Regions from separate parts of the Homo sapiens genome. Here region 2 is linked to region 1. A link means that fine-mapping ties the variant in region 1 to the expression of a gene that starts in the linked region. Tissue or cell type: whole blood. Region 1 holds a variant in brackets; the other region holds the start of a gene. All regions are shown on one strand. Distances are between the middles of the regions.

Evidence for each region. PIP is the estimated chance that this variant, and not a neighbour inherited with it, causes the effect.
Region 2: CYLD-AS1 starts here. The variant in region 1 is fine-mapped to the expression of CYLD-AS1 in whole blood (INTERVAL, PIP 0.96).

Annotation. Positions count from the first base shown.
Region 1 is chr16:50,760,065-50,768,250 of GRCh38, forward strand. The region is part of intron 5 of CYLD (CYLD lysine 63 deubiquitinase); the gene reads left to right. Among named protein-coding and RNA genes, the nearest start is that of CYLD-AS1, 21 kb to the left of the region's middle. The variant A/G (reference allele first, on the strand shown) is at 4,954.
Region 2 is chr16:50,739,093-50,747,278 of GRCh38, forward strand. It overlaps CYLD-AS1 (CYLD antisense RNA 1), which reads right to left and starts at 3,655. Exons shown (of 7, transcript NR_184279.1): 1 at 3,579-3,655; 2 at 2,236-2,312; 3 at 1,588-1,702. It overlaps CYLD (CYLD lysine 63 deubiquitinase), which reads left to right and starts at 2,994. Exons shown (of 19, transcript NM_001378743.1): 1 at 2,994-3,032; 2 at 3,670-3,749. It overlaps MIR3181 (microRNA 3181), which reads left to right and starts at 3,213; the gene lies at 3,213-3,285. RefSeq lists a silencer at 2,809-3,408 and an enhancer at 3,649-3,748.

The DNA of each region.
Region 1 (8,186 bases):
TTATATGTATCTGTCCACCTCTCTATTCACGTACTTATCCGTCACGTTTTCTTGTGCATTTCACATTAAGTTGCAGATACCAGTTCACTTCCTCCTAAATACTTCAGTGTGCATCTAATTAACTAGAGATAAGTATTTAGGGTTTTCTTTTTCATTTCAGATAGAAGTCACACATATAATGACATACATATGGATTTATTTGGGTTCTAACTAATATATATATACCCTTGAATTAGAAACCTCTATCAAGTTATTAAAACAATTTTAAGAAGAAATCATTCATGTATCTCAAATCAAAATTAAAAAGTACAATAAAATATCTCATTTCCATTTTTATCCCCTCTGCCTCAGTTGCCTGCTTACTCCATCCTTCGTTTCTCACTAGTCACAGTTTTTATGAATTTCTTATATATCTTTCCAGTGTTTCTTTATACAATATAAATATTCTTATTCCCCCTTCCCTTTTAATTCAAGAAGTGTAGTAGATACACTATTCTGCTGTTTGCTTTATTCTCTTAATTTTATATGTTAGAACTCTTTGTATATTTGCAAACAGAGGTTCTTGTTTTTTATAGTGTATAATTTTCCATTGTACGGAAAAAAATTTCATAATTTATTTAACCAGTTTCCTATCAATGGACATTTGGGTTGTTTCTGACTTTTTGATATTGCACACAATGTTACCGTAACCTGTACATGTCTGTTTCCCACATGTGCTAGCATATCTGGAGGATATATATATTCCCAGAAGTGGAGTTGCTTGATGAAAGGGCGTATGCGTTGGTATTGTTCTGGATATTGTTAATTGCCTTCAGTCGTAGATATAACAATTTATATTCCTGCCAGTAGAATACAAGGGGGAACTTATAGCTTTCCCATGAGAGTGTGTTACTAACTTTTTTCCCAATCTGATAGATAAAAAATATATTTCAGTGTATATAATACATTTGCAAATAGAAATTTGCATTTCTCTGAGTGATGTTGAACATTTTTGCATATGATTAAGGGCAATTTTTCTTTCTGTGAACTGTTTGCATCTGTTGCCTATTTTTAAATTGGGTTAGGTTATTGGCCTTTTTTCTCACTGATTTCTTCATGTGTTAGGGTGGCAAACTCTTCTGTGATGCGAGATGCAAATGTTGCCCACTCTTCCACCCTCATTTGTCATTTGTCTTTTTTTAAAATTGCTTATTTTTCTGGTCACCCTCATTTGTTTTTATTGTGGTAAAATATACCTAACAGGATGTACCATTTTAACAATTTTTAAGTGTATAATTCAGTGTAAGTATGTTTACAGTTGTGCAACCATCACCACTATCTATTTCCAGAAATCTTGTTCATTATCCCAAATAGAAACTCTATACTCATGAAGAGATAGCTGCCGGTTCCTCTTTCCCTCCAGCCTCTGCTCATCTCTGTTCTCTGCTCTCTGTCCTTATGACTTTGCTTACTCTGGGTATCTCATATTAGTGGAATCATACATATGTCCTTTGGAGCTGGTGCATTTCACTTGGTGTGATGTTTTTGACTTTGGTGCTTTTTGCCTTGCAGGATTTATAAAATTTTTATGCTGTTGTATTCTTTTAGTTTTAATAGATTCTGGATTTTGAGTTACTGTAAGGTTATAAAGGAATTTCCCTGTGTTTTCTTCTAGTACTCTGTGGTTTTAGTACATATCTCTATATCTATCTATCTATCTATCTATCTATCTATATCTTTGACCCATTTCTGTTTTATGTGGTATATGATGTGAAATATAAATCCAATCTAGTTTTTATTTTTGCCCACAGGTAGAAGATACCCTGTTGTCTTAGTATCATTTATTAAAAAGTCCCTCTTTACTGGTTTGAGAGGCCACTTTCATCATACTAAATTTCCACGTGTAGCGTGGTATATTTCTGGACTTTCTATTCTGTCTTCCCACGTTTCAATACCACATTGTTCTTAATGATTTTTAAAAAATTGTATATATTCATGGGGTACAAGTGTAATTGTGCTACACTACTGTATTGCATTGTGGTGAGGTCAGGGCCTTCAGCACATCCATCACTGGAGCAATGCACATTATACCCACCAAGCAACCTCCCATCATCCACCCCCCGCCACCCCAAGCCCCCTTTATTCATCTTTCCACACTCTGCTTCCACGTGTGATTCTTTATGTGTTTTAATATTATTAACACTAGTCTCCTCTCACTGTTCTTTTGAATTTTCCTGTTCTATACTGTTTTCAAAATAGTAGTCTTCTTGATAGTTTTGCGTTTTTACATTTAAGTGTGTTATTCACTTAGATTTGGTTTTGAACAGGATATGAAATATGGGTACAGATATCCAATTTGACCTTCCATGCTTGCTGCGTATAAATCAAGTTTCCAGATGTACACGTGTGGATCTTTCTGAGCCCTGTCATTTCCCTACACTAAAGCCTATCCATAGCTTTAGAAGTCTTGGTAGCTGTGAGAGTACATTTCCATTGTTTGTTTTCTTAATGAATGTCTTGGCTATTGTTAGCCTTTGGGCTTCATTGTAAGTTTAACTATCAGCTTCTCAAATACTATAAGAGAGTTCTGTTAGGATTTTGGAATTGCAATTAATCTGTAGAACAATTGGAGGAGAATTGACATTTCTATGATATTAAAACTTCTAATATATAAACCTTGTGTATCCTTTCATTTATTTAATTTCCTTTTGGTAAAATTTTATAATTTTCTCCATGAAGAGCTTACTTGCATTTTGATGCATTATAAAGCATATTTTCTAACAGTGTCATGCTGATGTAGAAATACAATTGACTTTTTTTTTAGAAAACAGCTTTACTGAGATCTAGTTTATAATTCACTCAGAGTGTACAAATCAGTGCATTTTAGTGCATTTACAGACATGTGCAATTGTCAAGATAATTTTAGAACATTTTCATCACCTCTAAAAGAAACGCTGCACCCCTTAGTGATCATCTCCCAAACCCTTCATCCTTGTTTAGTCCTAAGCAACTACCAGTCTACTTCTGTCTCTGCATATTTGCCTTTTCTGGACATTTCATTTAAATGGAATCACATTATATGTGGTCTTTTGTGATTTACTTTTTTCACTTAGCATAATGTTTTCAAGGTTCCTCCATGTTGTAGCATGTGCCAGAATTTCCGTCCTTCTTAAGGCAGAATAATATTCCATTGTATGGACACATCACATGTTGTTTATTAATCAGTAGATAGATATTTAGGTTTTTTTTTCACCTTTTGGCTAAAATGAATAATGCTGCTACAAACATGCATGTACAAGTTGTTGTGTGGACATATGCTTTTGTTTCTCTTGGGTTTATATCTAGGAGTGGAATTGCTGAGTCATATGATAACTCTATGTTTAACCATTTGTGGAACTGCCAGACTGTTTCCCAAAGCAGCCACACCATTTTACATTCCTACTAGCAGTGTGTAAGCGTTTTGGTTTCTTCATGTCCTTGTCAATACTTGTTATTATCTGACTTTTTTATTCTAGCCATCCTAGTGGGAATGAAGTCATTTTCAATTGACTTTCGTGTGCTGATTTTTCTTACAAACAGACTTACTAAAATATCTTATTCACAATCCATGGATTACTTATAAAATATTCAGTCATTATAGTTTGCACATAATAACAGTTTTGCCTCTTCTGAATTCTTTTATTTTTAAAAATGGTTTCTTACTGTCCTAGCTAGGACCTCTAAATACAATATTGAATAGAAGTAGTGATGGAAGGCATCTTGGCCTTTTTTTCTGATCTTAAAGAAAATGCTTTCAACATTTCATTATTAAATGTGATGTTTGCTATAGAGTTTTATTGTTGTATCTGTCATTTATCAGGTTAGAGAAGTTACCTACTGTTCCTAGTTTTCTAACAGTTTTATCATGAATTGATGTTGAATTTTATCAACCCCTTTTTCTCTATTGAGATAATCCTATTTTCTTTTAATCTGCTAATTTTCTTATATTGAATCAACCTTACATCCATGATGTAAACCCAACCTCCTCATGATTCATACTTTGCTTGGTCCAGTTTGCTAGTATTTGCATCCTGTTTTTAAAATCTCTGTTTATAAGAGATATTGGCCTATACTTTTTCCCTTTTAGCTGTCCTTGTCTGGTTTTGGAATCAAAGTCGTGCTTGTCTCATAAAGTACCTGGGAAAGGTTTCTTTTATTTTGTTATTTGAAAGAGTTTATGTGAGATTAGAATTACCTATTCCTTGACTATTTGACAAAGCTTCTTTTTGTGGAAATGTTTAGCTACTGATGAAATATCCTTTAACATTTGTTTGTTTTTGATTGTCTTTTGCAAGTTTTATTTTTTATGAATGTATCCATTTAATTCATTTTCAAAGCTTTGGGCATAATGTTGTTTATAAAAGCCTCTTAATTTTCTGTTCAACCTCAGCAGCATCTGCCCTTGTGTTCCTATTTTCATCCAAAATGTTAATCATTTGTGCTTTCTTATATTCTTCACCAATCTTACCAGTGGTTTCTGACTTTCATTTTTTCAAAGGACCAACTTTTGGCTTTCTTAATTCTTTCTAGATATACTTGTTATTGTTTAAAATATGCTACTATTTTTACTGTGTAACTAGTGCATTTTTTAGGTCTAAGCCCGTAGTTCTCAGCCTGGGATGCTTTTGTCTCCTGGGGACATTTGGCAGTGTCTGGAGATTTTTGATTGCCACATCTGAGGTGAGAGTACTACTGGCCTCTAATGCATGGAGACCAGTGATGCTTCTAAACTTCCTACAGTGCACAGGGCAGCCCTACACAACACAGAATTATCTGGTTCAGAACCTTAGTAGAACTGAGCTTGAGACACTGTGTCCTAAGCAAATTCTAGGAGTTATGCTCATTTTATAATGTTAACTTGCTGGATAGCTATGGGGGAATCACTTGAAAAACAAATTTTCTTTCATTATTTATGTATTCTTGCAGGGATAACCA[A/G]TTCTATGCTAATATTGTTTTTCCCAGAGTAACATGGCTAAATGTAATTTCACTTGTCTTACGAAATCAAATACAGGCATACCTAATTTTATAGCGCTTTTCTTTATTGTGCTTCACAGATATGTGTTTTTTATTAATTGAAGGTTTGTGGCAATTCTGCTTTGGGCAAGTCTGTCAATGCCATTTTTCCAATAGCATGTGCACACTTCGTGTCTCTGTGTCACATTTTGGTAATTCCTGCAATATTTCAAACTTTTTCATTATTATTATATCTGTTATGGTGATCTGTAATCAATGATCTTTGAGGTGACTATTGAAATTGTTTTAAGGCACCACAAACCACACCCATATAAGATGACAAACTCCACTGATAAATGTTGTGTGTATTCTGACTGCTCCACTGACTAGTGGGGCCTCTGTCTCTCTCACTCCTTGGGCCTCCCTATTTCCTGATACCCAAAAATATTAAAATTAGGCCAAGTCATAATCCTACAATGGCCTCTAAGTGTTCCAGTGAAAGAGAGAGTTGCATATCTCTCACTTTAAATCAAAAGCTAGAAATGATTAAGCTTAGTGAGGAAGGTATGTTGAAAACCGAGAGAGACTGAAAACTAGGCCTCTTGTGCCAAAGTTAGCTAAGTTGTGAATGCAAAGGAATATTTCCTGAAGGAAATTAAAAGTGCTACTTTAGTGAACACATGAATGATAAAAAAGCAAAACAGCCTTATTGCTGATATGGAGAAAGGTTTAGTTATCTGGATAGAAGATCAAACCAGCACATTCCCTTAAGCCAAAGCCTAATCCAGAGCAAGGCCCTAACTCTCTTCAATTCTGAAAGGCTGAGAGAGGTAAGAAAGCTGCAGAAGAAAAGTTGGAAGCTCGCACAGGTTGGTTCATAAACTTTAAGGAAAGATGTCATCACCATAACAGAAAAGTGCAAGATGAAGCAGCAAGTGCTGATATAGAAACTGCTGCAAGTTATCAGAAGATCTAGCTAAGTTAATTGATGAAAGTGGCTACATTAAATAAAAGATTTTCAGTGTAGGCAAAACAGCCTTCTATTGGAAGAAGATACCATCTAAGACTTTCATAGCTGAGATGAGTAGTCAATGCCTGGCTTCAAAGCTTCAAAGGATAGGCTGACTCTTTTGTTAGGGGTTAATGCAGTTGGTGACTTTAAGTTGAAGCCAGGATTCTGAAAATCCCAAAATCCTTAAGAATTATGCTAAATCTACTCTGCCTGTGCTCTATAAATGGAACAACAAAGACTGGATGACAACACATGTGTTTATAGCATGCTTAACTGAATATTTTAAGTCTACTGTTGAGACCTACTGCTCAGAAAAAGGATTCCTTTCAAAACATTACTGTTCATTGATGATGCAACTGGTCACTCAAAAGCTTTGATGGAGATGCACAAGGAGATTAATGTTGTTTTCATGCTTGCTAGCACAATAACTGTTCTGCAGCATATGGATCAAGGAGTAATTTCTATTTGCAAGTTTTATTTAAGAAATACATTCTGTAAGGCTGCCATAGATCAGGATTCCTCTGACAGACTGGGCAAAGTCAATTGAAAACTGTCTGAAAAGGATTCACCATTCTAGATGCCATCAAGAACATTCATGATTTATGGGAGGAGGTCAAAATATCAACATTAACAGGAGTTTGGGAGAAGTTGATTCCAACCCTCATGGATGACTTTGAGGGACTGAAGATTTCAGTGGAAAAAATAACTGTAGATGTGGTGGAAGTAGCAAAAGAGCTAGAACTAGAGGTGGAGCCTGAAAATGTACTTGACTGAATTGCTATAATCTCATGATCAAACTTGAGCGGATGAAGAAAGGAAAAGTGGTTCATTGAGATGACATCAACTCCTGGTGAGGATATTGTGAACATCGTTGAGATGACAACAAAGGATTTAGAATATTCCATAAACTTAGTAAAGAAGCAGCAGGGCTTGGGAGAGGATTAACTCCAGTTTTGAAAGAACTTCTATTGTGAGTAAAATGCTATCAAGCAGTATCACATGCTACAGAGAAATCTTTTATGAAAGAAAGAGCCAACTTCATTGTTGTCTTATTTTAGGAAATTGCCACGGTCACTCCAACTTTCAGCAACCATCACCGTGATCAGTCAGCACCCATCCACACTGAGGCAAGAGCCTCCACCAGCAAAAAGACTATGACTCCTTGAAGGCTCAGATAATCATTAACATTTTTTAGCAATGAAATATTTTTAAAATTAAGGTATATACATTATTTTCAATAACATAATGGTATTGCACACGTAATGGACTACAGTATAGTGTAAACATAGCTTTCATATGCACTGGGAAACAAAAACACTTGTGTGACTTGCTTTATTGTGATATTTGCTTTATTGTGGTGGTCTGGAACAGAACCTACAATATCTCCAGGGTGTGCCTGTGTGGGTTTGTGGGTTTCAATTTTTTTTTTTTTTAATTTCCATAGAGTACTTTTGAAAGCTCAAAAAATAATTAAAAAAAAAAGCATTTTAGATTGAAAGTAACCGTTCTCTTTACCTACCTTAATTGCATTTCTTTGAATTTTACATTTTACAACTGAATGCAATTCATTATACTGAATAAGTTAGGAGACTAGGGAAATCATTAGTTTAGTATTATAATTTAAGATTGAGATACCTGAACTATGAAGTTGGCTTATGTATAATTGATTGTTTTTCTCAGTTGGCTGTAGAATAAATACTTGAAGTGCTTTCTCCCACACACACACTCTAGAGCTGTATTTCCTTCTGTCTATTTTTTCCACATCTCAATTTGGTTTGAAATGTAAATTATCTTGGGTTCTACAGTAGCACTTAAAAAGCAAAGCAAAGAAAAAAACCACCCTTTCTATTTTTCCTGGAATATAACCTGACAAGGAATTCTTCATTAGTAGTATTTATCTTAAAAACATTTACGGTTTTGTTTTATTAAAATATTGGTGGAGGATTGAGATAATTAAAATTAGTTACATGAATATCTTGGGCGTCACTTGTCAGGCACACTTTGATCTTCTAAATCAGTAGTTATCATTGTCATTATTGCTGGCTCAGAGCAGTGAAGAGAAAGAAAAAGAATGATATTTTTTTTTCTTTTAAAGCTTGATTTTCATAAACCCTCAATAGGAGATAATTAAGAATGATACCAGCATTTATAACATAATACATAAATTACACTTATTTGTCAACAAAATAAAGCTTGCAAATAG
Region 2 (8,186 bases), 21 kb before region 1:
TGGCTCCCAAGGCTCTTTTGTGCCTTCATTGTCTGCGCTCTGCCTCTTCCAGTTTCTTCAACAGGTCATGCACTTTCCTGTTTCCTATTTCTGGAGTGTTCCCCCTCACTCCTGCCTGCCAGTTATCTTTCCCATCTCATCTCAAAGGTGACTTCCTCAAACAGGCCTTCCCTGAGTGGCCAACCTCCCTTTAGGCATGCTCAGAGAGATTCTTCTTCTGAGGCTTACCACAGCCATAATTAAGTAAGTGATCATCTAATGAGTATTTTAGTTTGCCTTTTTTTTTTTTTTTTTTTTTGCCAGAGGGAGTGTGGCATCTCTCTTGTACACTGCTATGTTTCCTGGAACCTGCTCAGTAACACAACCGCTAGTTCCATGAACCCAGGACCAGGCTGGATGGAAGAGGCTGTGGGGTGGTGGATTGAGAGAGGTCATTAGTGAGGGCTGGAGCCCTCTGTGAAGACATGTCTGTAAAGGACTTTGACTAGGTCCTCCATGAAGGGAGGATTTGGAAGGCAGAGATGATGAGCATTTCAGTTGGGGAATCCATTTTAACAGAGGTGGAAAGAGTCTTGGCTTGGAATCAGGGTCTCGGCCCATCTCCTGAGTGACAGGGGCTTGTAATTTACTGTCTTTGGGCCTTCATCTACTACCTGTAAAATGAGAGGCTGGTTCACCAAGGACTGCAAATAATAGCACCATGACACTATCTCCCCATCTTATCCCCTGGCAGATATCTCTCTTCCCGGTGAGCCTGAATATAAGTTCAGAATTAGCTTTAACGCAATGTTCTAAGCAGCCATTCCCAATTGATAGGAAATGATAATTGAGATAAGCCCCATTTGTCAGGCTTGACTTGGATGAAGATCCCTTAGATGAAGTCAGGCCCCGGCACTGATTCAGTGAACGTATGACAGGACAGAGCCTGGGGACGAAAGCCCTATGGAAGTAGAGACCTCAGCAGCACCAAACACCATCAACAGAAAGGACACAAAAATAGGCCGGGCACATTGGCTCATGCCTGTAATCCCAGCACTTTGGGAGGCTGACGCAGGCAGATCACTTGAGGTCAGGAGTTTGAGACCAGCCTGGTCAATATGGTGAAACCTTGTCTCTACTAAAAATACAAAAATTAGCTGGGTGTGGTGGCAGGCACCTGTAATCCCAGCTACTTGGGAGGCTGAGGCAGGAGAATTGCTTGAACCTGGGAGGCGGAGGTTGCAGTGAGCTGAGATCGCACCATTGCACTCCAGCCTAGGCAACAGAGCAAGACTCTGTCTCAAAACAAAGAAACAAACAAACAAACACCCCAGCAACAACAACAACAAAAACAAAAAGAAGGGACATGAAAATATTCTAGTCCAGAGTGGCAAACTCAGATGCCTTAAGGGACCAGTGGATGTAGATCGTGCAGATAAGAGAAGTGGTCCCAGTGGTAACATGAGAATGTTTGCCTTGCCTAAAAGGACCCCAAATCTCTCTCCTTCACATTCTTTTCTCCTTCCTCCTTATCGTATGGGTTAGGCAAAAACAAATTTCAGCTGAAATTTTCTTCCAGACAGTTGGACTGTGACCTCTGAGTCCTACCAGCTTTGTTGGAGAATCCAGATGTAGATGAGAACGGTGTTGCCTAAGGCCACACTTCAAGCCAGGCCCGTTGATTTCCAACTTATGGCTTCCTACAGCAGTGTGGTCATGAAGCCTGGAAAACAGGAAGATAGGAGTGACAAAAGAGGGACAGGAGTAGAATGAGGCTTAGGTTTTCAAAAGATGCTCATTTCATTTTGGATGACTATGGCAAGGAAGAGTGGTGGCCTGTCTACTGCTACTGTTAGTCATCACTCATGTGACTGTTTTTATGTATTCATTGGTTTAAATTCCCTGGATCTCCAGAAACATGTCACTTTCCACTGGGGGAAATTTGTGTCATGATTAAAAACACACACACACACACACACACACACACACACACCCCTCCTCCTTTCTCAGTGTTAATCACCTTCTCCTATAATTAGCACTTAAAATGTCAAAGGAGAAGAAATTAATTAACAGGAGTATCCAGTGCAGCAAGGCTCTAGGACTGATTATAAAAAGCACTTCCTTAAATATTTTGAGTGCTTTTGGGAATCAGAAGCCTCCCTTCTAATTGAAAGATCCTTAACTACACCCTAAGTCCTGGCTGGTGGCCAGGGGTGCGGGGCTGAGTGAGGCGGCGTGTGGAAATCCCTTCTTCACCATCCTTGGGAAAATTCCCTCCAAACTGGGATAGGTGGCAACAGAGGTTCGGAAACAGCAAGCGTCCCAGGCTGAATCTGCGGAGGAGGAAGAGATGAACCTTTCCTGAGCTGGTACTGCGTGCCAGGAACTTTAGCTCGGTATTTTGCCACAATCCTGTAAGACAACCGATACTATGATCTCCATTTTACAGATGAGGACATTGAGGCTCAGCGTGGTTGTGACTTCCTCAGGTCACGCAGCCACTGAATGAAAGCGCCAAAGATTCAAACTGAGGTCTGATTCTAAAGCTTTGCTCTCTCACGGCATCCTGGAATCCTATTTCAACCTTCATCTGGACTCTTAACCCAGCCCAAACCTAAGCGTCTACAGTTTTGACAGCTGAGGCGGGAGCACGGGAGGCGGAGCTGGTGGCAGCGCAGCGCCCCGCCCCGGCTCCAGCATCAGCCAATGGTGACGCGGCACCCACAGCCTTTCGCCCAATCAGCTTGAGCTTCCCGCCTCCATCCGCCGCTCTTCTCTGCCCCGCCCCTTCGCTTTCCCTTTGGTTCCACCGAGCTTGACAGAGCGGAAAGTCCCTTCGGCCGGCGCCGGGCTGGCAGCCATTGGAGGAAGGTCTGTCACAGGGAGGCCCAATCACGGCCCGCTCAGGAGCGCAGCTCGGCCTACGATTGGCTAGCGCGGCGGCTGCCCCCTCCGCCCCCGCTCCCTCCCTCTTCCCTGTGCGGTTCGGAGGCGGGGCAGGTGGGGGCGGGCCCAGGTAGCAGGTTTGGCTGCGCGGGGGCCGCGCGTCGGAGGTAAATACTAGGGCGGTGGGTGTGGGGAGCCGGGGCCGGCCCGGGACGCGGGCTGGGGAGCCGGGGCGAGGGGCGACGCCCCGCCGCCCGAGGTTAGTGAATGAGCGGGCGGCTGGCGGCCGGCGGGCGGCCGGATCCCCTCGGCGCAGCCGCCTGGCCTCAGGGCGTCCGGAGCCGCCGCGGCGACCATCGGGCCCTCGGCGCCGGCCCGTTAGTTGCCCGGGCCCGAGCCGGCCGGGCCCGCGGGTTGCCGAGCCCGCTGACGTCAGCCCGGGTTTCCCCCCCCCACCGGGGCTTCCCCATCCCCCGAGGCTTCCCGGGAGGGCTGCGAGTCCGGGGAGCGTGCGGGGTCGCCACCATCGGGACCCCCAGAGGAGAGAGGACTTGGGGCGGGAGCCGCGCGGGACGCTGTCCCCCTCCCGCCCCCCACCCCATTTACAGATTGGGAGACTGAGGCACAGGCCGCTGGCGGGCCCCGACGGCCACGGTTGGCCTCAGGAGCCCGGGGCTGTGATTCCTACCGACCGCGCCGCGGGGCGTACGTACCGATCGATTTTGCGGGTGTTGGTGGCTCCCGTCCAGGAATGGCAGTCGGGGTTCTGGCCTTGTTAATGGCGTGTTCTGCTTTTTCTTTCAGTTTCCCCCTTTCTAGGGTGAGGATGGTTCTACACAGCCACCCGGAGTTCCTTAGTTGAAAGGTGCGCCCTGCTGTGACAGGTATTCTTTCTTTATGTTTTTCTTTCATGTTAACAATCGAGGGGGGTGGGGGGCGAATGGGGGGCGGGGGCGAAGTCATGAAATCTTCAGGAGATGGTGTTGAGTTTGGTACTCAGCTGGGTCAGCTGCCGGTTATTCATGTACTTGGCATCGTTTCTCTTCCACCCCTTGGCATTTGAATGTTTTAGGATAGTTGTCATCTTCCAGCCACCAAGCCTGTGGCCTTGCAGTCTCCCAGCCCCCATCATCCCTGCCACCTTCTTCTCCTCAATTTTTCCTGGAAAGTTTTATCCTTAGCTCAGCTAAGGAGCATGCCTACCTTGCTTTTGAATTCGGGCTAATTAGGGATCTTAATAAGATTGTTCATTTTGCAATCATTGGCTCTCAGAGAAGCACCCAGGCCTTGAGAGGGTGTTCGTTTGATTGTTGGCTTTCTACACACCCCCTCACGCCCCAAGTAGACTGAATGGCCTTAAGAATTTAGCCTCCCATTCCCCACTGAGCAGTAGGTGGATTTGAACTAGAACAGTATTAGGAGAAAATGATTTGCTGGAAATTCTTATTGAAGTAACACCCAGAACATTCTCTAATATTCTGCTGCAAAATTGTATAGTATTCTTGCAAATAAACCTTCCTCTGGGTGGTAACTTTTGTGAGAAGCAGATAAGGCTTGTTATATAAAGCACAACTAACATTAAGCAGCAATGATTTTTATAGTCTGGCACACCTAAACTGTGGTTTTGTTTGATTTAAGGAAGTCTCCAACACAGGGAGAGAGAAAGGAATAGTTATGTTGTTTATCAAACTATTAGTATTTTGTTCCTGATTTTCACACTATGATTTAAATTAGTTTTTTTTTCATTGGTTGTACAGAATTTATAAGCATCATACATGCTAGTTGAGGCTGTAGGAAGCTAGTATCAAATAAACCTCAAAACAACTTGGTTTCGTAATTGTGAAATTTTCCGTATTTGTTTCTTCTTATATGTATAACAATGAAGTGGTTTAGCATGATTTCATTTTATCTAGAGAATTACTGAAGTTTTAGGCAAAATTCATTAAATACTCCCAATTCCTGAGTCTTTTTCTCTTCTCTTTCTCTTGGTTTAATCCCTTAAACAGGAGGAGGAAATGCAATTTTGTTTTCACTGTTACCACTTGAGTCTTTCATTCATTTCTCTGTATTCAGTGCCTAGCATATGCCAGGCTCTCGTGTGGGCACTGGATAATATAAAAATGAAGGACTTGGGGAATTCACAGTTTGGCAGTGGAGTGGCTAGGTTTAACACTAGAGAGGCAGCAGTATTCCTTGTTCCAGTGGGAATATGCAGATGTGAGAGGCTCTTCTTTTCTTTTTTTTTTTTAACCTTATAAATCCCACTTGTATTAGGGACTGTGTACTTGTGACACAAATTAGTCATTGAGGAAAATTAAAACGGACTCAGTCTTTTTTCTGGCCACGGAATCTCTGTATCTCTATTCTTTAGCTGTTTAGAAATATAACAACTTTGTCTTTTAGTGAGAGATGTTCTCTTTTAAAAGGATGATCATTCTAGCTATCCAGAAGCTTTTGGAAAAAGGCCCACATGTCTTCTTTCTTTGGTGTTCAAGCTGACCTTCCTACCTCTTTGCCATTTATAATTAGGGGCAGAATTAAGTATTGTAAGTTTTATTCTAATTTAAATAGCTTCCTGTGGTTTTTAGAACAAGCAGGATATCTTTGGAGATGCAAAAAGCTCTTGAATTGGATCTGTCTTTGTGAGATCCTTATGAACAATATAACCTGATAACTTGAGAATCAGAAAAACACTGCATCTTCTGGATAAGTTAACCATTGTTAGTTTTCTGTAGCTACTGATGTTCATTTGTACTATATGTTGCCTTTCAGAATGTGGTAATTGTAATCTTTAACATTTTCATGTAAAACATATTTCCTGATCATCTTTCCATTGTCTTCATGGAAAATTGATAAATATTTGTGCCTTCCAACTCTCGTCTTGGTTGAATGACTTCATCTTAATACAAGTAAGTTCCCCTTTACTCAGAATCCAGACCATCAACAAGCTCAGATAACCAGAAATGTTTTCAAATCTATGTGAACCTGAACTGTTCTCCTTCATCAGCGTCCTTAAAGGAAAGGCCTTCTGTTCAACATGGCTTTAGGGTTAAACATATTATTGTGTTTCAACTCGTTGGTAATTTTCATTCAGTATTTATTACCAAGATATTCATAATCACACAGTTATCCAGCCTGAAGTAAGATAGTATTTAGATGAGTCATTTGTGATATACTCACTCAAAGTGATTCAACCTGCAAAATAATAAGAGAATACAAGTGAAAATTTCTCCCTTCACACTGACCCCTCACCCCCACCTGCCCTACGGTGACTTTGAATTTAGCTGTGCTTCTTTTTCCTTCAGTTGTCTTACTGTTCCCTAGGCCTTTACTTAAAGGCAGAAGCTGAGTGAATGTGGATTGATGTTGGGTTTTTTTTTGTGTGTGTTCTCTCTTTCCTCTTTGTTTTTTTTTTTTTTTTTTTTTTTGAGACCAGGTCTTGCTCTGTCACCCAGGCTGGAGTACAGTGGTGTGATCATAGCTCTCTTCAGCCTGGACCTCCTGGGCTCTAGCGATCTTCCCATCCTCCAGAGTAGCTGGGACCCTGAGTAGCTGGGCCCACAGGCAGACACCACCACACCCGGCTAATTTTCTTTTCTTTTTTTTTCTTCCTTTTGGGACAGGCTCTCATTCTGTCACCCAGGCAGGAGTGCGGTAGTGCTATCACAGCTCACTAAAGCCTTGAACTCCAGGGCTTAGGGGATCCTCCCACTTCAGCCTCCAAAGTGCTGGGATTACAGGAGTGAGCCACTGTGCCTAGCCTAGATGATGTAGTTTTCAGTATCTAACTCTGTACTGAAAGCGTAAAAAATACCAAACTAACAAACCAACCTTCTTGATGATAAATAACTCATTTACAATGTGATTTAGATCTTTCCCTTCATATTGTGTTGAGTCAGTTTTTACTGCTTGGGGTACCTAAGACTTTAACTATTTAACTACTATGCACATCCCAGTGAAAGTAGACTGTTGGTGTTATATTCACTTCTACAGTGGGGAGAAATGTATGTTAGCATATTTTTATTGCAATACTGGTATTTTGAGTACATAAAATAAATATATATATATAATGGAGTGTGTATATATGTGAGAGAGTGTGTGACAGGGTCTTGCTTTTTCACCCAGGCTGAAGTGCGGTGGCGTGATCATGGCTTGCTGCAGTCCCTCCCTCCAGGGCTCAAGCCATCCTCCCACCTCAGCCTCACAAGTAGCTGGGACTACAGGCACATGCCATCACACCTGGCTAACTTTTGTACTTTTTGTAGAAATGAGGTTTCACTGTGTTGCACAGGCTGGTCTCAAACTCCTGGGCTCAAGCTGTCCACTCACCTTGGCTTCCCAAAGTGTTGGGATTACAGGCGTGAGTCACTGTGCCTGGCCGAGAATATTAGTGATCATTCAGTTGATTGCCTTGTATATCTCTAGACTCGAGCCGTAAAGTTTCCCATTCAACTTTCTCTATCAGTTGCAGTGAAGAGAATCAATTTTTAATAAGAGAGTTTCAAACTTGTTCTTAATATATTCTTTCTGAAAGAGGAAAGGCTGTATCCTTTATTTTTGGATAATGCTTTTGAAATATTTGATAACTTGTGCTTGACTATTTTAGTTGTCTAACATGACCCATCCTATTGCTAAGTCTAAGCTCATTTCCACTTGTGCTAATGAAAGTTAGGAAAAAAGTTACCACTCCTTGTAGAGTTCACTTTAAAATATGGTACTTGAAAGCTATAGTTTATTACCCTAAAACATTTTTATAAACCTAGCAGTTATATCAATTTTTACTGTGGATTCTCTTCCTTAAATTATTTCAGAAAGCAAGCTTATAATCAAATTTATTTAACATAATGTCCTAATGCACATATAGTAATTTAGTTTTGTCTTAATAATAGATTATTAGCATTAATGATTTTTATTTTAAATTGTGACATGAATAGTTAAGCTACAGGACCAATAGAGTAGGAGCTGTTGGTATAAAGCAATTATTAAGATTCAGGGAAGTTTCTGATTGTAATATTTGAAGACATTGTTCTTAGGAATTTTAAAAAAGAATTTCTTTTCAAAATAGAATTACTTTACCTTTTTCAAAAAAATTTTGGCCCTAAAAATCTAAATACATTTTAAAGAGAACCAAAACAACAGCTCGTTTTTTTGAAAGTTGCTTTTTGACTGTCTTAACCTTCTGCTAGTGACCAGACTCTCTATTCAATAAAGCCTATGTGCCCTTTGCTCCTAAAGACCCTTTCAGAATGTATGCATTCCTCTTTTCACGATTGTTGCTTTGTGTTTTCAAACACACAAACATATTTCACTACCTGGCTTCT